7 linked regions of the Homo sapiens genome follow. The protein of the gene in region 1 purifies or fractionates together with the protein of each later gene. This does not show direct contact. Each region holds a gene or a part of one and is shown in the gene's direction. Other genes may lie near its edges.

Region 1 (3,500 bases):
GCTGTTGGAGCCCCTCGTCTCCAGTTATAAGCTGTCACACCCAACAGTGTTTCCTCATAGTCAGTTTTAGTTTCCCTCTAACTTCTGCCTTGAGTTCTGACCATCACAGGCAGAGCTTGCCTGATGACTGCCCTGGAGGAAAACAGGTCCCTGGGCAAGGGCCAAGAGCAGACCAGGGTGACTTTCCAGAAAAGCCCTCTTCTCCCTTCCAGGAACACATTGTTATAAGGATTTCTGCCTATGACCAGGAGAGTCATATGCCAGAAAAAGCCCTCTTCTCCCTTCCAGGAAAACAGTGTTACGAGGATTTCTACATATGACCAGGAGGGTCATGTACTTCAATTTCTAAAACATCCCTCTCATAATAACTAAAAAATGTGATGAGTACTTCCCAGTTATCAAAAATAGATTTAGCTAGAAGTTTAGCCGTATTTTAAATGTCTACAATATGAATCTGATTTTGCTTTGGGTTCCATCATGAAATTGCAGATGTGTGTAGCAGAAAACTTCTCCTCATGTACTCAGTGGGAAGCATTTGGCAGAGGAAGGACTGGCCATTGCTTGCCTTGGGTCCCCTGGTTTCTGTAGGCTTTGTCGGAGTCCCACAGTCATATGAGAATTTGCCAGTAGAGGTTGGCCCCATTTGTCATCCACTCTCAAAAATGCTAGTGTTGGAAAACTATTTCTTTCTTTTACAATCATTATGAAGGTTTGAAAAACTTCTGTAATCGTGTGATCTTAAAAAAAGGTACACACTTGCTCTTCTTCCCCTTCAGAACCTCTATGAAGCAGGAAGTGATCAGGTCTGGGAAACTTCTTAGTGGCAGAGGTAGGAAATAAAACGTTTCAGCAGTGCACGCCAGTGTTCACAGGGATGCATAGAAAAGCTCGCTTGTCTTTACATTTTTTTTTTTCTTAAAACCATCATTAACTGGATAGTTTTCCAAACAACAGACTTCAGAGTTCTCCTTAACTCCTCTCCCTCCAGCACCCTCTCATACAAATAGTCACAAAGCCCTAACAATTCCACTTCCAAAATGTTCCCCTTGTTCTCCCACTGTCACCGTATCAACTCAACGCCATCTTCTTAGTCTTTGCACTTCAAATTTCACTAAAGATGCTCAAATGTGAAGAGGTATGTCATTCTGTAAATAGGATTTTCTACTAGAGAGTAAGAGAAGGGGGAAAAGAGGAGCAAGTTACCATACTATATGGTGTTTAAAAGACACATGTGCAAAGGGTTATGGGAGCCCAGAGGAAGTTGTGACTGACAGCATTGGTGATGAGAGGGTGGACTAAAGAAGTCTTGAGTGATAGGCGATTTTTAAACAGGGGATCGAAGAACTGGAGAGGAATCCAGCAAGTGTCAAAGCTGAGCCTTGTAAAAGATAATGGTCATCCCAAACAGTAGACTCCTGACTCCTAAAATCTCCTCCTCCCTAAAATCCTGGAGCCTGCAAACATTGTGTTTTGTTTATTGAGTTTTAGGGTTTTTGCTGTCCTTTTCTTTTGCTGTTTATTATGCTGATTTAGGAGCCCCAAGCTATCTGAGCAGCCCCTGTAAGAAACACAGAGTTAGGACTGGGCGTGTTGGCTGACTCCTGTAATCCCAGCACTTTGGGAGGCCAAGGCAGGTGGATCACTTGAGGCCAGGACTATGAGACCAGCCTGGCCAACATAGCAAAACCCCATCTCTACTAAACATACAAAAAACTAGCCCGGCATGGTGGTACATGCCTGTAATCCCAGCTACTCGGGAGGCTGAGGGATAAAAATCACTTGAAATCAGGAGGCGGAGGTTGCAGTGAGCCGAGATTGTGTCACTGCATTCTGGCCTGGGTGACACAGTGAGACTCTGTCTCAAACTATTACTAGAGTTGGAGAATATGGCTCCGGGAATTACTCTAGTTTGAGAGTCAAGACATAACTCTGATCACAACCCTCTAGGCCAAACTAGCATTTTCTCAAAGTTGGATCTGCCTGGAAGCAGCATCAGAATTCCCCTGGCCTCAGCTCAGACCCACTGAATTATCATTTCTTGGGCATGTGTCTGGGCATCTGCAATTTAATAAGCTCCCTAACTAATTACCAGTGCTACACGTGTCAGATCCACTGTATTGACCCTTTCCCTCTCGTTTTCACCCACTGTTGTCTGAGCCCCAACAGCTCCATCTTCCCCTCTGTCTTCTTTTCTCCAAAGCTGAGGCAGATGTGGCAGTGCCACTTCCCAGCATTTGTGGCCAGTCTGTAACACTTGTTACTCTGACTTCAATTACAGCGGATGAATGCTTCAGTGACAGAAACAGGAGAGAAATCCCTGTGGCCATGGGCCTGAGTATCACAGGACTGCTTGTCATTTTGCTAACCGCATGTCTGGTGGCCAGAAAGAGGCCCAGTAGAGGATATGAACGCATGTAAAGCCCCACTTTCTTCAAAATGTGCAAAGTTAAGGTCTTGGGAATTCCAGCATCATATTCAGCCTGAAGTGAAAGGATTGACCTGTCTCGTTGCCTGTTGCACCCTCCTGAGCTGATTAGGAAACCTAACTTTCCACCAAAGGGCTACCGCAGTGCTGGGAAACAGCACCTCCCCTACTTCCTCCTGTTGCTTTGGGGAGGCCATGCCAGGTGTGCTTGATGCCCTCTGCCATACCTGAATATACCAGTGCTGGCTTCCGGAATTAGGGGCAATAGGCAGAGACATGAGTGGGGTGCTTGTGAGAAGGGAGAAAGCGAAAACCCGGAGGGAGAATTGTGGGGAAGACGTTTACAAATTGACTGATTTTTCTTATACATTTTCAAGAGTCCTGATTTTCAGTTTTTAAAAACATTACTTTAAAAAAACCAATGCATTTCAAAGTTGATTACAAAATGATTTTAAACTCCTGGATTTTACCCAAATTTTGTTTACTTAAATTATAGATGATCTTAATATGCTATTATTTTAAAAAAACATATCCTACTCTATTGTAATGTATTATCAGTTTAAAAAATTAGGAAACTGCCTATTTCACTTTTTTAATTTAAAGCACATATCAAAGATCATGGCAAAAAAGGAGGGGCTCAATAAATGTTAGCCCTTCAGTTGCTTCAATTTCATGTGTTGTCTGCCTTCTTAGCTACTTTTTTCCGGGTTTGTCGGCTTTTCTTTGATGTTATTTTATTCTTGTAAATGTGTCCATTTGGACCATTGCAGGACAGGAGGGAGACAGAGCAGGGAGACAATATGGAATGGCAAGCAGGAAGAGGTAGACCTGCCTGGAGGATCACTCACTTCCCTTTTACGCAAACATTCACCAAAAGCAGTACATTCCTGATGGGGGACGGTTGATATCTGAGGGAAAAATTCTATTAAAATATGGCTTAGGATGTTATTCATGGTTTCCTATTACATTGATGGGGGTTTTTCATTCAGAGAAAAAGGAGAGGTATGTTCTTAATTGATTCTACTGACTGGAAGTTTTCTTGTTTTTCCAAATTTTCCAGAGGTGCCATTCATTA
Region 2 (3,500 bases), on another chromosome or scaffold:
ATATTAGGGGAGAGGATCAGGGCTGCAGGGACTGTATAGTGTAGATGTTAGCTAGGAGTGTATTCTTTGGGACCCTAGACTTCTGTGTTCAAACCTCCTGCCTTCCACTTGCTACGTTTGTGATCTTGGACAAGTTACTTCCTTATAGGATTATTGTAAAGATTAAGTTAATTGACATGTGCAAAAAACTTGGCATGTAGTAGGTGCTCAGTAAATGCTTGCTATTACTTTTTTATTATTATTATTTTAAGCTGTGACAAACCACAGCAGCTGTAATTACTCTGGTTTGATGTTCTTAACCTTAGTTCCTCGTTCAGGAATGACTTACTGCTCTATTTGGTTTGTAGATGCAGTAAATAAGAATGTAATTACGTGATTGAAAGGCTGTGTTGGAGTATTAACTTCCTAAACTCAATGAAGACAGGGGTTGTCCTTTGTAAAAATTGTGATAATCATGATGGAGCAGATTTGGAGTAATCTCAATGATTCGTCCGCACTATACACCAAAAGCATAAATAGGGACTGCCCAAGTAGGGGATAGTGCCCTTCCAACCTTTATCTGGAGAAATCAAGACAGCCTGTGAGAGTATTCATCGCCCCAAGGATACTGTTGCTCTTTACCTTGTTATGAAACTTTGATATATATTAATAATCTTCAACCTTTCAGCCCTCTGTTGGAGAATATAATTACATTCTTAAACCTCCCTTTTATAATTGTCTTATTTAAGACTCATCTTCTCCCATCATGTATCTTTAAGTTATGTTTCTGCTCTTAAACTATATGAAGTTTGGAGGCTTAATAGGATAATCTATTTAAAATTCGATATGGAAAAATTTATCTATGGCTGGGCACTGTGGTTCATGCCTGTAATTCCAGCGCTTTAGGAGGCCAAGGTGGGCAGATTGCATGAGCCCAGGAGTTTGAGACCAGCCTGTGCAACATGGCAAAACCCCATCTCTAAAAAAATATATAAAAATTAGCTGGGTGTGGTAGTGCATGCCTGTAGTCCCGGCTACTTGGGAGGCTGAGGTGGGAGGATGACTTGAACCTAGGAAATGGAGGTTGCAGTGAGTTGAGATCATGCCATTGCACTCCAGCCGAGACAGCAGGGTGAGACCCTCACACAAAAGTGCTAAGTAATGGCTAGGTGCTCTATAATTACTAGTTGTCATTATTCTCAGCCATTATCAAGAAAATTTAAAAAGAATAGTAAACATACGTATTTTCATATGAAATTGAATGACTTTTAAAGATCACATGTTGTATTATATCTCCTATGTACTAAGCATTTCTGAGTTCCAGGCACAGTAAAGTGGGCTTTTCATGCAATTTAGTTCTCACTATTATCATCATTCCCACTGAGGCCCAGAGAAGTTAAGTTGGCCAGGGTAACTCAGTAAGTGATGGAACCAGGGTATAAACACAGGCAATCTGGCTCCATAGTCCAAGATCTTAACTATTACTACCATGTTTTCTTGCTTCTCCATATGAAAGTTGTTATGTTTGAAATACTCAGTAGAGTTTTTAAAACAATCAGTATACCGCAGTGGAGTTTCAGGAGACTGTATTTTCTATAGCTGAATTTTGAGATATGTTTGAAAGCCTTGAGTCAAAAAGATCACAGCTCTTTTCTTCAGGTTTTTACTACATATATACTAGGTTTACTTTAATTAGGGGCTAATGGAAAGAAGGAAATGAGAGTAAAGAGCTGGTTACACATAAGTTTCATTTGAGTTATTCAGTTTTTCTTTTTTTTTTTTGAGACAGGATCTTGCTCTGTGGCCCAGGCTGGAGTGCAGTGGTGGGGTGCGATCTCAGGTCACTGCAACCTCTCCATCCCTGGCTCAGGTGATCCTCCCATTTCAGCCTCCCAAGTAGCTAGGACTACAGGGGCGTACCACCCACCTGGCTAATTTTTCTGTTTTTAGTAGAGACGGGGTTTTTCTGTTGTCTGGGCTGGAGTTAATCAGTTTTTCTAATTGATGATATCTCTTCATCAGCAGTAAACTCCCTCTTATTAATTCTGGAGTTGTGACCTGTTATTAATTCTGGATTGTGATTCATTTCTTTGGGTACAGCAGGCAATGGGAGACCAAGGCTAAGGAAGAGAGCAACTTGCCCATCCACATCCACACAGCTGGGTGGGGAAACGTAGCTGCAGCACATGATGTAGCTTCACATAGATCATAACATCCATTCTTAGATTTGCTCCTCTGTTTAATATACGAGATTTAGGATGTGGATGGGTCATTGGTGACCTTAGCTTGAGCTTTTTTGATGCTGTGATGGAGGTGAAAGCCAGACTGGCATGGGTTGAGGCGTGGGAGGTGAGGAAACAGATGGTGAGCATAGTCAGCTCTCCCAAAGTTTGGTTGTGTTGTAAAGAGGAAGAAGGAGTGGCTCCTGGGAGTTGTTTGTTTATTTAAAGGTAGAAAAGATTTTAACTTTAAATATTGTTAAGGGATCCAGTTAAGGAAGTATATTCCTAAATCTTAGTTGTATATGAATGTGTGTAAGACATACAAATGGGCATTTATCATATGGACATCTGTGTGTCCATATGATACATAAATTGCTTTTTCTTCCATATGATCCTTTTATTCTAATTTTGATGTGTTCAGAAAAACCATTCTCATCATGAGGATTACTGTGAAACTTGAAAAATATAAAAAACATCTCTAAATTGATGTAACGTGGCGGGGCATGGTGGCTCACGCCTGTAATCTCAGTACTTTGGGAGGTCGAGGCGGGCGGCTCAGTTGAGGCCAGGGGTTCAAGACTAGCCTGGCCAAAATGGCGAAACCCCATCTGTACTAAAATACAAAAATTAGCTGGGCGTGGTGGCGCACACCCGTAATCCCAGCTACTTGGGAGGCTGAGGCAGGAGAATTGCTTGAACCCGGGAGGTGGAGGTTGCAGTGAGCCAAGATGGCGCCACTGCACTCCAGCCTTGGCAACAGAGCGAGACTCTGTCTCAAAAAAAAAAAAATTAAAAAATAAATAAATAAATTGACATAACAAGACTTTAAATTGAAATGCAGAATAAAGCCTTTAATTTTAGCAAATTCTAGTGTTTTGATGAGACATTTCGTTTATAAGTGCTATGTATCATAAAAATTTTGAGAAATAACAGGACTCAGGACCCTGGAAGATTACTTTTTGTTGAAAACCACTGTGGATTCTTCAGGAGGAGGTTATCTGTCTGGAAGCAGCATCAAAAAACTGGATTGTTCTTGATTATTGAAAAGCATTTATATGTAGGATTGGCAGAGAGTTGATTGAGACTTTGAAAGTTTGATTTGCTTATTGATAGTCCAGTGATCCCTCTTTGGGCCGCAGTTTCCCAAGGTGATAAAGATAGTAATACCTTTGTCACAGGATTATTGCAAAGGTTAAATGGACTAGTGCAGTAAGTAACTGGCACAGTACCTGGCACCTAACAGATGACCTGCTGAAATTCAGAGGCATTGGTGTTGCAATCTTTTTTTTTTTTTTTTTT
Region 3 (2,774 bases), on another chromosome or scaffold:
GATTGTTGAGTATGTTTTGCTTACACTTAAGGCCAAATTCTTCCTTGAAGATGAGCTTGTCAATAAACATCAATGGAAAAATAACCCCAAATTTGTGACTTCTGGGGAATTTGAATTTAAAGAGAATATCTGTAGGATAACAGACTGTGGGTTTCTAGTCGTTGGATTAACATGTTTTGTTTAGCATGCTTAGTGTGGGAGTGTTCAAGGATCTTAGAATTTGTTTTTCTTAAAGCAAAGAATTGACTGAGTTTTTGTGCTCATTTGTATAATGAGAAGGTTTCCTCCCATCATGTGGGTTCGTATCTCAAAATTAACCCCTAAGTATATATCCTCAAATGTGTATCCTCATGTGTTAAACAGCTATATATTAGTTCAATATGAATTTTTTTTAGTAACAAGTGAATTTTTCTCAAAATAACATGAAATTTTTCAGAAGCCAAGTGCTTGCAGTGATGGCAGTTCATCTTGGTACATAGAATCAAGTCCAGGAGCTCTTCCAGTGACCTGGGTCTTTCAGAAGTCTGTGAGAGCAGCCCAAGAAATACAGAGGACTCAGGGCTAGGAAAGGGAAGCTTCCTGAAGGTGTAGCAGGCAGCTTGTAAATAATTCTTTGGCCGGGTCCAGTGGTTCATGCCTGTAATCTCAGCACTTTGGAGGCCAAAGCAGGCTGATCACTAGGTCAGGAGTTCAAGACCAGCCTGGCCAACATAGTGAAACCCCATCTCTACTAAAAATACAAAAATTAGCTGCGCGTGGGGGCGCAACCTATAGTCCCAGCTACTCAAGAGGCCGAGGCAGGAGAATCGCTTGAACCTGGGAGGTGGAGGTTGTGGTGAGCCGAGATCATGCCAAGCACTCCAGCCTGGGCAACAGAGCAAGACTCTGCCTCAAAAAAAAAAAAATTCTTTAATAGCATATTGTTAAAATTGCTTCAAATAGTATAACAAATTAATAGTCTCTGTATGAATTGTAATAATCACTTAGCTCTTTTAGCATTGTTACCTTTATAAAATATGTATGTAGTAAAGGAGTTTGGGAATATATCTTTCTTTCTCTTTTAGGTGTAAAATTGTGGAAAAGGAGACAGTCTTACTACTGATCAGGCTGATTAAAAATGTAGAATGGGCCGGGCGTGGTGGTTCATGCCTGTAATCCCAGCACTTTGGGAGGCCGAGGCAGGCAGACCACGAGGTCTAGAGTTCAAGACCATCCTGACCAACATGGTGAAACACCGTCTCTACTAAAAATACAAAAAATGAGCTGGGCATGGTGGCACGCACCTGTAGTCCCAGCTACTCAGGAGGCTGAGACAGGAGTATCGCTTGAACCCGGGAGGTGGAGCTTGCAGTGAGCCCAGATCACACCACTGCACTCCAGCCTGGCAACAGAGCGAGACTCCATCTCAAATAAATAAATAAATAAATAAATAAATAAAAATGTGGAATGAATTAGGCAAGTTGGGCTGCTAATGCCTTGCCACTGAATTGAACAGCCACAGACAAACCAGAATGCACTTCTCAGGGCAAAAGAACAAATATTGATGAAGTCAATCCCAACATGCTCATTCCTTTTCCCTAATCTCATCTATTAGATGAGTTCCTCCTTCTCCCAAAGAGGAGTAGGTGAGAGGAGGTGAGAAAGAGGCCATGTCCCACTCTCCTGTGCTTCCAGGGATCAGAATTTCCCTCCCTATTAGGGAAATGCGTTTAAAAAAAAAAAAAAAACACGCCAGTTTGGTTGGGATGTTTTTAGTATGCTAAAACGTTTATGTTTACCCAGCTCATGAGTCAGAAGTTATTTTGCTGCTTATAAATTCATTTTGCCATAGTATGATAAATAGCTTTTAATGTTGTAAGCAAATAGGGCATTGGATAGCAGCACTAAGTCATTGAAAACAAAAACTTCTTTATTGGTGTTTGGTTTTTATATAGTTTAGGGAAAGGCTCTTTAAACCAAGTTTCAGGTGAAAAAATGAAAAAACTTTTTAAGGATTTTAGATAACATGCCAAGCACAGTGACTCATGCCTGTAATCCCAGTAGTGAATCTGAGAAGCGCAGGCTTCCCAGATCGCTTGAGCTCAGGAGTTGAAGACCAGCCTGGGCAACATAATGAGATCCCGTCTGTACAAATAATTTAAAAATTAGCCAGCCATGGTGGTGTGCGCCTATAGTTCTAGCTATTTGGGAGGCTCAGGCTGGACGCTGAGCCTGGAGGACCACTTGAACCCAGGAGTTGGGGCTGAGTGAGCCATGATCGTGCCACTGTACTTCAGCCTGAGTGACAGAGTGAGATCCTGATGCTTAAGTTTAAAAAAAAAAAAAAAGATTTTAGATAACAACTATGGAAATGAAATCATTTTCGTTTGGTTTATATCTTCTCCACATCTTTTCTAACTTTGCGTTCTATTCTTAACCCTAAGGTAAAAATGCATTTGCAAAGGGAGAAAATGAAGGCCAAACAGAAGCAGGCTCCAGCTTCTGCAAAAACTTGGATTCACAAATGTCCCTGAACAGAAAATGAAGCTCACTTCAGAACACACACTCTCTGCCTTGAAAACTAAAGAGACTATTACTTCCTTTTCACATGACCACAAGTCCTCTGATGGAAATGTACAGCAGAAACTCTTGAGAGAGAGGCTAAAAGCAACTCTGTTCTCCCCCTTCCCCTAGACTTTTCTTACGAAAAGTCAATAATTAAGCAAATTGCTTAACACTTGGTTCCAGTTCCTGCCTATCTGGAGTTTAAATGCGTAATACACCATTAATTTCCA
Region 4 (4,266 bases), on another chromosome or scaffold:
GTGGATTTATTCTACATCTAACCGGCAAGTAAATCCCCTCTTTGCTCTTCTCAGTTTGGAAAACCTTAAGCTAACCGTCTTTGAAAGATGGAAACTAGCATGGAGGTCCCAGGAATGGGGATGCCAGGGTGTCGTCTGACCTCTTTAGGGTCAGAGTAGGGGCTGAGGGAGAGCAGCTGGGCTGCCTCCACTTCAGCCAGAGTCAGAACTAGGCACAAGGTGCTGGATGAAGTTTCCTATTCAGGGAGCAGATTTTTTTTTTCCTTTTACAGTGAAATTGGAACAGTCCTGGGAAAATGGGACAGGTGTCCCCAGTCAAGAGACAGAGCTGTTTACCCAACTACGAGGAGAGGCCCTGAGGGAGGCGAAGTGTTGATACCAAGAAATCTAAAATTTTCCGATCAAGAGGTCGCCCCTGCAGGTTGGGGACCAGGGAACTGGAGCACGTGGGCTGCCCTCTGACAGGTGGACACCAGGAGTGGGGCGGGCAGGCCAAAGTACAGCTGGGAGATGGGAGTCCGGAGGGAATTCTCTGGGTTAGTTTTGGCAGTCCATAGGAAAGCAGGTGCCTGCCCCGCAACCCGGACACCCTACTAAGCCAGCCGCGGGTGGGCTCCTCCTTCGAGGGGACTGCGGGGCAGACGATCACTTCTTTCCACTGAGTCTCTGGGAGGAGACAGGGAGATGCCAGAAGGGGCCAAGCGTGAGCCAGGGCAACCAGGCCGGCCAGGCCCGCCGGCCGCTCCAGCCCAGCACCAGGGCGCCCGCGCGGCTGCCAAACACCCCCGGGAGTTTTGCTCGCAAAGGGACCACGAGGCAGCTGCTGGCGCGTCCTGCGCGTACCCGCCCAGAGGCTCCCCGGCTTGCTCCTCGCGGGTCTGTCCCGAAACTGACGTGAAACCGATTTGGTGCAATGCGAATGAGCTCCCGCCCGCCTCCGCCTCCATCCCAGCCGCCGCCGCCGCCCGTCGCCATAACAACCGGCCCCCACCCCCCCCACCCCACGCCTTGCCCCTCGGGTCCCCCGGGCCACAGGCCACAGCGCGGGAAGGCGCCCCGCCCTCGGCGCCCCGCATCCGGCCGCCGCGCACCCCCGCCCGCCCGGCGCTTCCGAGCCACGCAGAGGCGCCCCCTCCCGCCGGAGACGGGAAAGCCCCGGCGCCCCCAGACTGGGCTCCGTTTCCAGCTCCCGGAGGGGCTGGGGCTCTCCCGCGTGCGCCCCGCACCTGCCGGGGGCCCGTACCCGCCCTCGCCGGGGCTCCAGGGGGCACGACGGCCGTGGCCCGGCGCTCTTGGGAGGGGAGCGGGACATCCCCGAAGGCGGCGCGCTGGAGGCGGGGAGCGGCCGGGGCGCACGGAGAGGGCGGGGAGCCCGCGGGAGGGGGAGGAGGGGGAGGAGGGGGAGGAGGCGCGAGGTGGGGGGGAGCGCGGCGGGCGGCAGGGAGGGAGCGGGAGGGAGGCAAGAAAGTAGCAGAAAGTGAGGCTGGCAGGCGGCGGCAAAGGAGCCGGCGCGCGGCGGCGGCAGGAAGTCTGTGCCCGAGAACAGCAGAAATAAGAGCCAGGGAGGGACCGCGGCCGCGGCGGCGGCGGCGAGAGCGAAAGAGGAAACTGCAGAGGAGGAAGCTGCGCCGCAGCCCGAGCCGCCCGGCATCCCCGCCGCCTCTGCGCCCGCGCCGCGCCCCCGGCGCCCCCTCCCCAGCGCGCCCCCGGCCGCTCCTCCGCGCCGCGCTCGTCGGCCATGGCCCGGGAGAACGGCGAGAGCAGCTCCTCCTGGAAAAAGCAAGCTGAAGACATCAAGAAGATCTTCGAGTTCAAAGAGACCCTCGGAACGTAAGTGGGGACCGGGGAGGCGAGGGTGGAGGTGGCCGCGGCAGGGGCTGCACGGGCAGCTCCAGCTGCCGCCGCCGCCACTACCGCGGCAGAAACCCAGCCTGTCACCGCGTCCTCATTGTCCCGTTCTCGGCGCTGCGGAGCCCCCCCGAGCGCGCCCGACGCGTGGGCCTGCGACCCCCGGGTGGGCGCCGTTCCCGGGAGGGGGAGGGGGCAGCGCCGGGCTGTCAGGGAGCAGCCCACGCGGGCGCGCGACTTCCCACTTCTCCTGCCACCGCCGCCCTCTCCGCTGCCTTCTCCCCACGCGTGACTGTGGGCTGAGCATGGTGGGGATGGCTGTTTACCGGCTGTGTGCGTTTACTCGCCGTGTGCATGGGCGCACCGCGTTGGCGAGACGTGGTCACGAGAAGATCAGCCTCCAGTCGTTCCCATTTCTGTCCTTACATCATGTATTTCTATGGAATTGGCATCTGCACGTACGAGGTGTAGGCAAGACTTTGGGTGGCCACGCGAGGATGGAAGGGAAGGGCTTCGCAGTGCTCAGGGTCACACGTGGGCAGAGCCTCACCGGAGGGTCTGTGCATTTCACGCGGGCTCGGCCGCACGCGCCGGGGAGCGCGTCTCCAAGGGAGGGTCTGTGCGCGTCGCTGCGCGGGCGGTGCTCTCTCCGGGCTGCATCGAGTCCCATGCTGATGGCTGTGTCTCAAGAAAGCAGAAATAATCCGAAGTCGATGGCAGGAACGCTCCAAGCATGTGCTGCTCAGCTCAGCTGCTGTTCCCTTTCTGCCCAGGAGTTGGGTCTTGTTTGTTTTGTTTCGGAGCGGCTCAGAATAGGTGGGGAGGCTGATAGTGAAAGAGAATCAGGACCTGCCGAATGAGTCTGAAGTTCAAGTTATTTCCTTCCCTCACACAATCAGTATTTGCTCTGCATCAGTATCTGTCAGTGTGGATTCACGCACAGGTGTGCAGTCAGAAATGCCCATTTTGCAGGGGTTCATGGAGGTGTTGATTAGGCTGGGAAGAGAAAGGGGAGCTATTTCATGGGATAAATCAGTGCGTTGTTGGGTGCCCTTTCTTTCCTTCCTCCTTTTTTTCCGTGTGCTTGTTTTTGTGCTTGGTTTCTTTTTTCCAGCACCACATTACCCAGCTTGTCTTCACCTCCAGGCTCGGCGTCTGCTGCTGTTCAGTCATTTCCCCTCACCCCCACGCAGATCTGCAGGGGGTCCCCCGGAGAGAAGTTGTGAGGGTGGCTTTCCCAGTCCTGCTTCTGATTCCCGGGAAGGCGCACGCTGAGGACTAGAGTGGGGTCTCCCTGCTGTGGTTGTTGCCTTTCAGGGAGGGCACCTATTTGCTATCTTTGTTGGAATGAAAACAGAAAAAGATGTAGCTTTTTAATAAATAGGGGTTTGGGGTTGCCTCTTAGTGCAGCCAGGTAAGGGGTTAGTTTGGGTCAAAACTTTTGAAAATTGCCACTGAGGTTTATTCGGGTTTGGGGTTGTGATTCTGAGATGCTCAAGTTACTGAGAGACAAGAAAGCATGGCCTTTGCTTGTCATCCAGGACCCGCACTGTGGCCGCCAATGAGGAGATGGGAGAGCATGGGGACCCACCCTGTGTGAATGCTTTCCTGTCCGTGGCTTGTTCCCACCCGAGCCCCCCACACTGGCTTCCTGCCTGTAGCCTCCGGGTGACTGATGCCCTGTCCCCTGACTGACTCGTGCAGCTGCACCTCTGCAGTGGCGGGGCTGCTGAGGCTCCAAGCTGTGGCTCCTGCTGGAGCATGGTGTTTGGAGATGACTGTGGGTGGTTTCCACCTTGGGGAAAAATGGGGATTTGCCCTCTGGTGCCAGAGCGCTTCTCTGGCAGAACAGCCTCTTGGACTCCAGCCATGTTCCCTGTGAGCTTTGGGAATGGGTCTCTCTTAGGGTCCTAAAGCATTGCCTTCTGCCTGGGATGGAATTCTTTGCAAAGGAGCTTCCCACTGTAGCACTGGCATTGGACCTAGAAGAATGATAGAAACAGTGTGATGATCAAGATGTTTTTACTCCACATAATAATCATGGTAATCATAGGTGGTATTCTGAAATGTATACCCAGGATCAGGTATTATTCTACGTGCCTTATGTGTATTAACTCATTTAAATCTCAGAGTAACCTTATGAGGTAGGTATTTACCATTACACCCAATTTGCAGATGAGAAAACTAAGGCAGCAGAGATAATTATGTGAGCTACCAAACCTTAGCTAACTATTAAGTGGCGGAGCTGGTATTCACAGATAGGCAGAGCAACTTTTGATTGTCCATACAGGGTTGACACACTTTGTAGATCCTGTAATGGCCAATGCTTAGTCAATAATTTGACTTAACTTTAGTATTTGGAACGCGAACTTTAATATTAATGTAAAGAAAACATAATGGGCTGGGCGTGGTGGCTCA
Region 5 (3,500 bases), on another chromosome or scaffold:
TGTTACATATGTATACATGTGCCATGTTGGTGTGCTGCACCCATTAACTCGTCATTTAGCATTAGGTATATCTCCTAATGCTATCCCTCCCCACTCCCCCCACCCCACAACAGTCCCTGGTGTGTGATGTTCCCCTTCCTGTGTCCATGTGTTCTCATTGTTCAATTCCCACCTATGAGTGAGAACATGCGGTGTTTGGTTTTTTGTCCTTGCGATAGTTTGCTGAGAATGATGGTTTCCAGTTTCATCCATGTCCCTACAAAGGACATGAACTCATCATTTTTTATGGCTGCATAGTATTCCATGGTGTATATGTGCCACATTTTCTTAATCTAGTCTACCGTTGTTGGACATTTACATTGGTTCCAAGTCTTTGCTATTGTGAATAGTGCCGCTATAAACATACGTGTGCATGTGTCTTTACAGCAGCATGATTTATAATCCTTTGGGTATACCCAGTAATGGGATGGCTGGGTCAAATGGCATTTCTAGTTCTAGATCCCTGAGGAATCGCCACACTGACTTCCACAATGGTTGAACGAGTTTACAGTCCCACCAACAGTGTAAAAGTGTTCCTATTTCTCCACATCCTCTCCAGGTGCTGGCCCTTTCAAGTGAAGAGAAGTGCTGGGGTGTTGGTAGCCAGAGGCAAAAAGCACCTGCCAGAGAGAAGGCAGCATGAGGGGAATCTCAGCCAAGTGGCCCCATAGGCAAAGTTGCCCTGGGCCTCCTGGGATGCACTCTGTGCTGGGATGCCCCCTTCCCTTCCCCGCACACCCAGCACCCTGCAGGCCCCGGGTGCCACCCATCCATGGGATCCCAGTCTTGATCCATGATCTTCTTGCAGGGTATGACTCCTCGAATCTTTGGAAGCCCAGAATTTATCATCCCAATTTTCAATTCCAAGGGATGACTCTGAAGATACATTGTAATTGGCTTTGCAGTTTCTTCAACTGAGTAATTGTGGAATTTAGTATTGCTCCTAGATTAATATTTTTTAGTTTTGTTGTTGTTGTTATTTTTTTTTTTTTAAGAGACAGGCTCTTGTTCCTTTGCCCAGGCTGGAATGCAGTGGTGTGATCATGGCTCTCTGCAGCCTCAAACTCCTGGGCTGAAGTGATCCTCCTGCCTTAGCCTCCCAAGTGGCTGAGACTACAGGTGCATACCACCACACCCTGCTAATGTTTGTATTTTAGGAATTTTTATAAAGGGTTGTGTAAAGCACAAGTCATAATAAAAGTGACTCCCACCCCAATCTTGGTTTAAGTCTCACCTTTCCTCTTGAAAACCAGATGTGGCTCAGCCTGAAGCTCTTGTCCTAAGAGGGTACAGACACTCCTGGGTGTCATGTCATCAGGAAATGATGAAAAGCCGGTTCTATAGCCAACTCTGTTGACAGCATCGCCCTTGGTGTTCAGTTGCCACCAGGAATCTCTTTCCATTTAGCCAGACAGATGCTGTGAGGGTCTGTGCTGCCACCACTGACCCCCAAGATGAAAAATCCCAGTGGAAAAGAATATGCCATTAAAGGCTAGAATCAATGTTTATCAGCTTCTATGTAGTTGTTCTAAGAAATGTTATTTCCACAGAATAGTCATGCAGTGAAAACAGAAAAGAAGGAGTGGAAATAACTTTGAACTTGCTTGGGGAGGGGTACTTATGAAGCACCACCATAGTTCAGGGCCTCTAGAGGAGATACCTTAGTAATGGTCGACATTTTGGAGGGAGGTTGGTTGGTTCTACCTGAATTTTATTTCAATCAGAACATATTAGCATAATGATGCTAATATGACAAGTTATAAGTGAGAAAGTTAACTTTTTTTTGTACTAAGTGGGAATGAAGGAATAAAAATTTGAAGGGAAAAAGCTCATGGGGTCATTCTCTACTGATAATGTCACTGTTAATGACAATTCCATTTGTGAAGGGCAGTGTGTGGAGCAGCTGCCTGGCATCGGGGCCATCCCTGTGTCTCAGTGCGGTCACCTCGGGGACTTTGGCTGCTGGGGTAGGAGCAGCATCCTGATGGAGCTTGACAAGGAAATTGACCAGGGATGATTCCAGACCCATTTGAGCAGCAAATATCAGTGGAGGCCGGAGCTCCATCTGGACTGAGATGGTCCTACTGATGCTTAATGTCATGGGGTCGGGAGCAGGTCCGGGATCAGCTGGGAGCGTGGCCACCTCTCCAGTGGGTGAGGAAAGTGGCTCATTTTCCCTCCTGCACTGCGTCCCCACCTGAGGGCGCACGGGCTGTGCATGGGGTCACATGGCCAGCGGCAGGCCAGGAGCCAGGACCTGGTTGGGCAGGGAACAGCTTGGCCTCTTGGTGGCCCTGGCCTCTCTGCAGTGGCCCCAAAGGTGAGCGAATACATTGAGTTTCCTGTCTTCCCCTTCCCCCTTCCCTTGCTCTCACTGCAGCCTCTCTCTCTCTCTCTCTCTCTCTGTCATTTCTTTTTAGAGATAGGGTCTTGCTGTGTTGCCCAGGCTGGAGTGCAGTGATGCGATCATAGCTCACTGCAATCCTCCCACCTTGGCCCCCCAGAGTGCTGAGATCTGTTTCTATGGTTCTTTCACCTCTGCTCCAGGATAGGTCTGAGGCTCCTGGCTTCCCTTTCCCTCCATTTAGCCCAGTTTGCCCTTATGAACAGCAGCTCTGATTCTGTCATACCCCTGCTCTAAGACCTTTAGTGGCTTCCCATTATTCACAGAGTAAATGTCTAAGTCCCCAGGGTTCTCCTCAGCCTGATTCCAGCTGCTTTCCCAATCGTGTTTCTCACCCTTCCCATTTTCACAGTCACTCTTCCCACTCACATACTCTCTCCAACCAACGCAGTCACTTCACATTCTCCACGAATGCCCCGGCTGGCCCACCTCTGAGCAGCCTGGAGTATCCTTCCCTCCTTTGAGATCCAGTTGTCTGTCTCTTCTTCAGTTCTCCCCCGAATCCTGCATTCTTTCCTCTGCCCTACCAGCTGGCACCTTGGGCATCTCATTTGCATCTCATAAGGCAGGTAATTATGCATTTGTCTATACCTACCTTGTTTCAGACAGGATTCAAGCTAGCAGTATATCTGCTATTGAGTGCTTGCAAATAAAAAATACATTGCCTAGCAGATTGTGAATTATTTGAAGACACAGACATAAAAGTTTCATGCCAGCACCTGGCAAACATGTAGATGCTTAGAGTAGATGCTCAGTAAACATGGAATGAAAGACTAAGGCAGAGCTTGTTATTGACCAAGAACTTTGCACTTGCCCAGTTCATCTCCTTTTTAACTGAAGTTGTGTCTCTAGTAGCTGCTCATCCAGCTGAAGCAGAGTGCCTCTGGGCACCCACATTACTGACACTCATGCATACAGTAGGTGTTCAAATCTGTGCTGCCTGAATTGGGATTTTGAAAGAAGGCCCCATAACTTCTGCTTCCCTTGGTGGCAGGCGATGGGAGGGAGGTGACCCTGGTGTGTCCAATCAGAAGACTCCAACCACCATCTTGCTGAC
Region 6 (3,500 bases), on another chromosome or scaffold:
GCTAATTTTTTGTATTTTTAGTAGAGATGGGGTTTCACCATGTTGGCCATGCTGGTCTTGAGCTCCTGACCTCAGGAGATCCACCCACCTCATCCTCCCAAAGTGCTGGGATTACAGGCATGAGCCACCACACCTGGCCTTATTTTATTTCTTCATACCTTTATTTTACCCTCAGCTCAGTTTCCTCATTCATATTTGTTAATTTGTCGGAAACAGTTCTCGCTCTGTTGTCCAGAGAATTGTGGCAGGTGATCCGCCCGCCTCAGCCTCCCTAAGTGCTGGGATTACAGGCTTGAGCCACCACGCCTGGCAGAAACAATTCTTAAACAACTTTTTTGAACTCTAAAGGGGTTATATATTTAGACAAAAACACAAGAAAAATAGGCCCAAAAGCCAGCCTCCCCAGAGAGCATGTGGGTGTACCAGCCTCCTCTTTGCTACCCACCGCTCTCCTTCTCCTGCTTTGGGTGCCTCCTAAATTTCATTATACACTTAACACAGGGATTCTCTAGTCTGGAGAGTGATGATTTTGAAAAACAGAATTGAAATACATTCATGATTTCAACTGATACTTAAATAGCTTGGTGTTAAGAGATGCACAATTCACATCTTTTTATTTTTTACAGAGTCCAGTAAAAGGTGAAAACGGCAAAATAATTTTGGAAACAAAGGCAGTGATTCCCGGTGACGAAGATGCTTCGTTTCCCCCTCTGAAGTCTGAGGACAGTGGGATCGGGCTCAGTGCCTCGTCACCGGAGCTCTCTGAGCACTTGAGGGTTCCTCGAGTTTCTCTGGAAAGGGACGACGTTTGGAAGAAGGGCGGGAGCATGCAGAGGACGTTTCTTTGCATCCAAGAGCTAATCGCCAACTTTGCCAGCAAGAACATTTTTGGAGTACAGCTGACAGCGTCAGGAGAAGAAAGCAAGTCCGAGGAGCCTGCAGGGAAGAGGGACAGGGATGGGACGCAGAGCCTGGCAGCCAATGATTCCAGCAGGAAGAACTCTTGGGAGCCCAAGCCCATCACTGTGCCTCAGTTCAAGCAGATGCTGTCAGACTTGTTCACAGCACGAGGGTCTCCATTCAAGACAAAAAGTTCAGAGTCACCATCGTCTTCGCCCAGCAGCCCTGCCAGGAAAAACGGGGGAGAATGGGATGTTGAGAAGGTGGTCATTGACCTGGGGGGTTCCAGGGAGGAACGCAGGGAGGCCTTTGCCGCCGCCTGCCACCTGCTGCTGGATTGTGCCACTTTCCCTGTCTACCTGTCCGAGGAAGAGACCGAGCAGCTCTGTGCAACGCTCTTCCAGCTGCCAGGTGAGAGGCAGCCCTGCCGAAGTCCCTCTTTGGGAATCATACGATGAGGCGATTGACGTGGGTGGAATATCCCCTATCCACAATGCTAGGGACCAAATGTATTTTGGATTTCGGACTTTTTTCAGATTTTTGGAATATTTGCCTTACACTTACCGATTCAGCATTCCTAATCCAGAAATCCAAAATCCAAGAGCTCCAGTGACTGTTTCCTTCGAGCATCATGTCAGTGCTAATAAGGTTTCAGGTTTTGGATTTGGAATTTTCAGATTAGAGATTCTCAACCTATATTTAAAGACTAGCTCAAATTGTGTAAGCCAAGAAGGTGCTATTGGCCTCATTTGTTCCCTTCCTCATTTGTAATTAGTACATTTTTGACTTGTGTCTCACCACATGGCAAAGTGGTAAGGGTGGGGCCTATGTTTTTAAACCCTGGGTGTCCAGCACAGCCCATCAGAAGACCTAGAACATGAGTGGCATTCAGTGATAGTAAATAGACTATTTCATGATGCCTGTTGATAAAGTTTTTTTTGTGTTGGGTTTTTTTGTTTTTTTTTTTTTTTTGAGACAGGGTCTGGCTCTGTTGCCCAGGCTGGAGTGTGGTGACACCAACTCAGCTCACTGCAACCTCCGCCTCCTGGGTTCAAGTGATTCTTCTGCCTCAGCTTCCCCAGTAGCTGGGACTACAGGCACGTGCCACTACGCCCAGCTAATTTTTTTTTTTTTTTTTTTTGAGACAGCGTCTTGCTCTGTCGCCAGGCTGGAGTGCAGTGGCGCGATCTTGGCTCACTACAGCCTCCGCCTCCCGGGTTCAAGTGATTCTCCTACCTCAGCCTCCCAAGTATCTGGGGTTACAGGCACACGCCACCACACCCAGCTAATTTTTGTATTTTTAGTAGAGACAGGGTTTCACCATGTTGGCCAGGATGGTCTCAATCTTTTGACCTCGCGATCCACCCGCCTAGGCCTCCCAAAGTGCTGGGGTTACAGGCGTGAGCCACTGCACCTGGCCCCCTAATTTTCATATTTTTAGTAGAGATGGGGTTTCACCATGTTGGCCAGGCTGGTCTCAAACTCCTGGCCTCATATGATCTGCCCGCCTTGGCCTCCCAAAGTGCTGGGATTACAGGCATGAGCCACCGTGCCTGGCCAATATTTTATATATTGGTTTGCTAGGGCTCCTCTAACAAAGTACCATAAACTGAGAAATTTGTCTCATAGTTCTGGAAGCCAGAAGTCCAAGATCAAGGTGTCAGCAGAGCCATACTCCTCCTCTGAGACCCTGGATGGAATACTTTTTGGCCTCTTCAGCTTCTGGTGCTGGCCGGCAACCCTTGGAGGGCTCCTCACCTTGCAGCTGCATCAGTCCCGTCTCTGCCTTTGTCTTCACAGGGTGTCCTCTGTATGTCCTGTCTTCCCTTGACATGTCCCTCTTACAAGGACACCAGTCATATTGGATTAGGGCCCACCCTAACAACCTCATCTTAATTTGATTACCTCTGTAAGGACCTTATTTCCAAATAAGTCTCACCAGCGGGAGGTTAGCGCACTGCTGTCCAGGTGGATTTCTCAGGTAACTTCCCAGATCTAGGGTGCTGTAGAATCTGCAGACTGGGGACCCATTCTCACGTGGTTCTGCTTGTTTCTGCCTCTCCGGCTGGCTTCCTTTCAGGAGCCGGTGATTCCAGTTTTCCATCTTGGCTGAAGTCCCTCATGACTATTTGCTGCTGTGTGACTGACTGCTACCTCCAGAACGTGGCCATTTCCACTCTGCTGGAAGTGATAAACCATTCCCAGTCCCTGGCGCTTGTCATTGAAGACAAGATGAAACGCTATAAGAGCTCTGGACACAACCCTTTTTTTGGCAAGCTGCAGATGGTGACGGTTCCTCCCATTGCTCCAGGGATATTGAAAGTCATTGCAGAGAAAACAGATTTCTATCAGGTATTTCCCACTGGGAACACTCTTCTTATGGCCTCCTTCTCCCCCTGAGCAAAACTCAGAACCGTATTGCTGGGGATGGGGGCAGTGGCCCACTTCTCTGAGAGTGATATTCTATAGGGCACTGGGCAGAGGCAGTAGCCTTTGGTCTTCCTCTCCCAGCATGTAACTTTCACCCTCCAGGAAAGCTACAGTGAGAGCAACTGGGGCCCCAGTATTCTGGGCCTGCCAGGACTGAGTGGAACCCCTGC
Region 7 (3,500 bases), on another chromosome or scaffold:
GCCTTCCACATCCATAACCCGCCCCCGAATGGAACTGTCCAACGCTTCCAGCCAACACAGCTGGACTGGTCGGGGGAGAGGGCTATTTCCCTATGAGGGAGCCTTCAGGGCACTTGTTTTCTGGGCTGCTTTAAGGAGATCAAGAACCCCACCTGATACCTGAAAGAGAAACATTCTGTCATTCCCTTCACCCTGTGGGGTTTATTCTGAGAAAAACAGGGGTCACTAGGCAAAGTCATAATCAGGAAAAATGGGGAGTCCTGCTGCCCATGGGTGATATCTTACAGCCTCTGTGAGACACTTTTGTGAAAAGGGAAAAAAATGAAATAGTCATTTGTGCAACAAATGCTTATTGAGAACCTACTGTATGCCAGGCTTTGAACTAGGTGTTGAGACAAGCAAGATGGATAGGTTTAAAATTGTTTTGAAGGTTGTCCACAATAAGAAATCTGCTTAATATCAGCCAAGCGTGGTGGCTCACACCTGTAATCCCAGCGCTTTGGGAGGCCGAGGCAGGCGGATCACTTGAAGTCAGGAGTTTGAGACCAGCCAACAAGGTGAAACCCCGTGTCTACTAAAAATACAAAAATTAGCTGGACGTGCTCACTTGAACCCAGGAGGCAGAGGTTGCAGTGAGCCAAGATTGTGCGACTGCACTGCAGCCTGGGTGACAAGAGCAGGACTGTCTCAAATAAAAAAAATTAAAAAAAGAAAGAAAGAAATGTGTTTAATATCATGAACAGTACATATACATATGCATACATATATTCACACATAAAATGGAAACAAAATTATTCTAAGAATACATACCCTTGCTATATTCAGTGCACGCTGATATTTTGTGTTCTACTTTATAGAAACAAAAAACACCACCAAAACTCTGGAGGTTCCCACCCACTGAAATAACTGTGTGACCCTCTAATGGGTCCCAGCCTCTATTTTGAAGCACACTGAGCTAAGTCCCTTGTTCCTGAGGCGCTCCCTTTCGGGATCTTAAACAGGGAATTCATGAAAGAATACAGTACATGCTTTAATTCAGATGTGTTTGGGAGTGCTGAGGCAGGAACGGATACATCGGCCCGTAAGTGAGATGGGGTGAGCCACTAGGGGGGCCTGTCCTGAAGCCATGGCCTTGCAGCCAGCTCTTGGAGGTTGCAGAAGAGGGGAGGAGGGCTCTCTTTGATGCAGCAGGCACGTCGTGGGTACCCTTGCATCTTTTCGTGGGAATTGAAGGGGGAGGTGAGTGTGATTTTCTAGGGACAGAGTGCAGCCAGAGAAAAGAAGAGGGAAGAGTCCCAGTCTCTGGGAAATTCTGACATTTAAGAAGCTGGACACAAAGAGAAGCTGAAGGGAAGCCATCAGAGCTGGCATGTCCTTGAATTAGTACCAATGACCTTGCTTTGCAAATCCAGAGTGGATGATATGTGTACAAACGAGCCACCTGGAGATGTCAATGGGAGAACAAAGTCAACCCAAACACATCCTCCTAGAGGTGGATGGATATTTGATGACAATTGTTGTTCATTTGACTTTCTTGCCTTCTTGTAGATTTTTAATCCCCTCCTTGAGAAGCAACTTGCTGAACAAATCAAGTTATATTATGAAAGGTGTGCTGAGGTTCAAGAAATAGTATCTGTGTATGCATCTGCAGCAAAGCACGGGGGCGAGAGACAAGAAGCATGTAAGTGTTGAGCTTCAGGGGAGCTGTTTTAAGCTCTGTGCATTTACATAAACACATGTTTGGCTTCTCCATAACAGGATTAAAATTAAACATATATGACTTGGCTCAGATACCAGATGGGACAAGTGTGACCTTGAGCCCTCCACTGGTGGATACAGGTGAAATTGTACATTCCACCTGGATTCTACCAAGACCAATGACAGCCAAGAAGAACCAAAACATCTTATAGCTCCAACCATAAAAATCTAGTTTACAAGTACAAATGAAAGCGAGTGTTTTGTGCCTTCGCATGGCGTTATTCCCAACCATAAGGCCAGCCTAAGAAAATAAAAATGAACTGGAAAATAAATTAATCATTAGAAATGTTTCCCCATCAGTGCACTTTTGTTTTGGGCCATTGATATCTGAATATTAGCTTTCAGAAATGTTGAATGGTGACTTTGTTGTTTGGAGCTTGGTTTTATTTTTTAAATCCTTGAAATTGACTCATTCTCGAAGACATCGGTAATTTTTAACAGAAGGAATGAATTTCAAATAGACTGCTTTCATGCATGCTCATATTTGCACAGACATCCTTTTACTCACACAGGGTGTTTATCAGTTACAAAACTTGGTCCTGTCTGGTTCGCCAGTGTTCCAGCTTGGATCTAGCACTTACACATTTCTCTGTGCTGTGGATCTTGCTGTTTGATATGGTGGCACTAGAGTTACTCACATATGTTCCTTCTGGAAGAGAAATTCCTGTGGGACCTTTGCCATCAGCAAAAGCGAATTGAGTATTTCAGTCCTGCCCATATGTCTCTATCTCCAGAGCGGAACTTCTCATTCCAGGTCGTGGAGGGAGGGATGCATCTCAAACATGCCCCAGTCCAATAGGGTTCACATGAAATGGTCCCAGGTAGTGATTACAGATGGTGACAGGTGAGTGTGGAAAGATAGTGCTTCTGCAATTCAATTTAAGAATAGGCTATACTGGTCCCCAGCTGCTGCTCTCACTGCTGAATCATCCGGAAAATATGATGCTGTCAACAGGAGGGGGAAGATATATAGGAATAGTAATAACCCAAAGAGGAAAGAAACTGACTTTGGTAACTTATGTACTCTCAGGAGACATACCCTGAGATAGAAGGCCAGGCATGCACACCCATCTGTTTGGTGGCATTAGGAAGATTTTCCTATCATCTTGAACTGCTTTGCCTCCCTGAGGGTCTTTGTGCTTTGCTCCTCAACTCACATGCCAAAAAATGGCCTAGATATTGGCCTCCTGGGGACCGGTCAGAGGCCAGCTGCTCATTCTGTAGAATTATTCAACAGCCATCAGCAACTTTGGCACATTTCTCATGGACTTGGCTCTGAATTTGTGACCTGGAGGCAAAAGCATCATAGCCAATTTCAAATCCCAAAAGGACCAAAACCAACATCCAGTAATGGCAAGTCTTTCTAGTTCCTGTTAGGAAGAAGGGCTTTAGGGAGGTGAGTCTTATCTTCTGCTAAAGGGTGTGATATCTTCTGCTCCCTCTTCTGTGTAGGCCACCTCCACAACTCCTACCTGGACCTCCAGCGCAGGTATGGGAGACCCTCGATGTGCAGAGCCTTCCCCTGGGAGAAGGAGCTGAAAGACAAACACCCCAGCTTGTTCCAGGCATTGCTGGAGATGGATCTGCTGACCGGTAATTGAGTCTTTGCCTCGGCTTTAGGCGCTGGTTAGAAAGGCTCCTTGTTTTTCTCTGTTTCACTCACCCTCTTTGGTGATTTATGCCTTAAAGTTATTTTTAACCCTAGTGTTTTAGTTTAATTTCAGATTTAAATTCTGCCTTTG

What was found.
Region 2: the proteins of LAMP3 (region 1) and ARFGEF2 purify together in Homo sapiens (affinity purification with mass spectrometry; 2 studies listed by BioGRID and IntAct, with this or other methods). This does not show direct contact.
Region 3: the proteins of LAMP3 (region 1) and PDS5A purify together in Homo sapiens (affinity purification with mass spectrometry; 2 studies listed by BioGRID and IntAct, with this or other methods). This does not show direct contact.
Region 4: the proteins of LAMP3 (region 1) and CAMK1D purify together in Homo sapiens (affinity purification with mass spectrometry; 2 studies listed by BioGRID and IntAct, with this or other methods). This does not show direct contact.
Region 5: the proteins of LAMP3 (region 1) and HSPA12A purify together in Homo sapiens (affinity purification with mass spectrometry; 2 studies listed by BioGRID and IntAct, with this or other methods). This does not show direct contact.
Region 6: the proteins of LAMP3 (region 1) and DOP1B purify together in Homo sapiens (affinity purification with mass spectrometry; 2 studies listed by BioGRID and IntAct, with this or other methods). This does not show direct contact.
Region 7: the proteins of LAMP3 (region 1) and SEL1L3 purify together in Homo sapiens (affinity purification with mass spectrometry; 2 studies listed by BioGRID and IntAct, with this or other methods). This does not show direct contact.

Annotation. Positions count from the first base shown.
Region 1 is NC_000003.12:183,131,735-183,135,234, reverse strand, and holds part of LAMP3 (lysosome-associated membrane glycoprotein 3 precursor), read left to right. Parts: intron 1-2,278; coding exon of another isoform or gene 2,279-2,418; exon of another isoform or gene 2,419-3,500. UniProt on the Homo sapiens protein: Lysosomal membrane glycoprotein which plays a role in the unfolded protein response (UPR) that contributes to protein degradation and cell survival during proteasomal dysfunction.
Region 2 is NC_000020.11:48,924,711-48,928,210, forward strand, and holds part of ARFGEF2 (brefeldin A-inhibited guanine nucleotide-exchange protein 2), read left to right. Parts: intron 1-3,500. UniProt on the Homo sapiens protein: Promotes guanine-nucleotide exchange on ARF1 and ARF3 and to a lower extent on ARF5 and ARF6. Promotes the activation of ARF1/ARF5/ARF6 through replacement of GDP with GTP. Involved in the regulation of Golgi vesicular transport.
Region 3 is NC_000004.12:39,825,138-39,827,911, reverse strand, and holds part of PDS5A (sister chromatid cohesion protein PDS5 homolog A), read left to right. Parts: intron 1-2,423; coding exon 2,424-2,427; 3' UTR 2,428-2,774. UniProt on the Homo sapiens protein: Probable regulator of sister chromatid cohesion in mitosis which may stabilize cohesin complex association with chromatin. May couple sister chromatid cohesion during mitosis to DNA replication.
Region 4 is NC_000010.11:12,348,081-12,352,346, forward strand, and holds the start of CAMK1D (calcium/calmodulin-dependent protein kinase type 1D), read left to right. Parts: upstream 1-1,466; 5' UTR 1,467-1,738; coding exon 1,739-1,830; intron 1,831-4,266. UniProt on the Homo sapiens protein: Calcium/calmodulin-dependent protein kinase that operates in the calcium-triggered CaMKK-CaMK1 signaling cascade and, upon calcium influx, activates CREB-dependent gene transcription, regulates calcium-mediated granulocyte function and respiratory burst and promotes basal dendritic growth of hippocampal neurons.
Region 5 is NC_000010.11:116,701,067-116,704,566, reverse strand, and holds part of HSPA12A (heat shock 70 kDa protein 12A), read left to right. Parts: intron 1-3,437; coding exon 3,438-3,500. UniProt on the Homo sapiens protein: Adapter protein for SORL1, but not SORT1. Delays SORL1 internalization and affects SORL1 subcellular localization.
Region 6 is NC_000021.9:36,229,824-36,233,323, forward strand, and holds part of DOP1B (protein DOP1B), read left to right. Parts: intron 1-626; coding exon 627-1,311; intron 1,312-2,980; coding exon 2,981-3,252; intron 3,253-3,500.
Region 7 is NC_000004.12:25,817,989-25,821,488, reverse strand, and holds part of SEL1L3 (protein sel-1 homolog 3), read left to right. Parts: intron 1-1,548; coding exon 1,549-1,681; intron 1,682-3,210; coding exon 3,211-3,351; intron 3,352-3,500.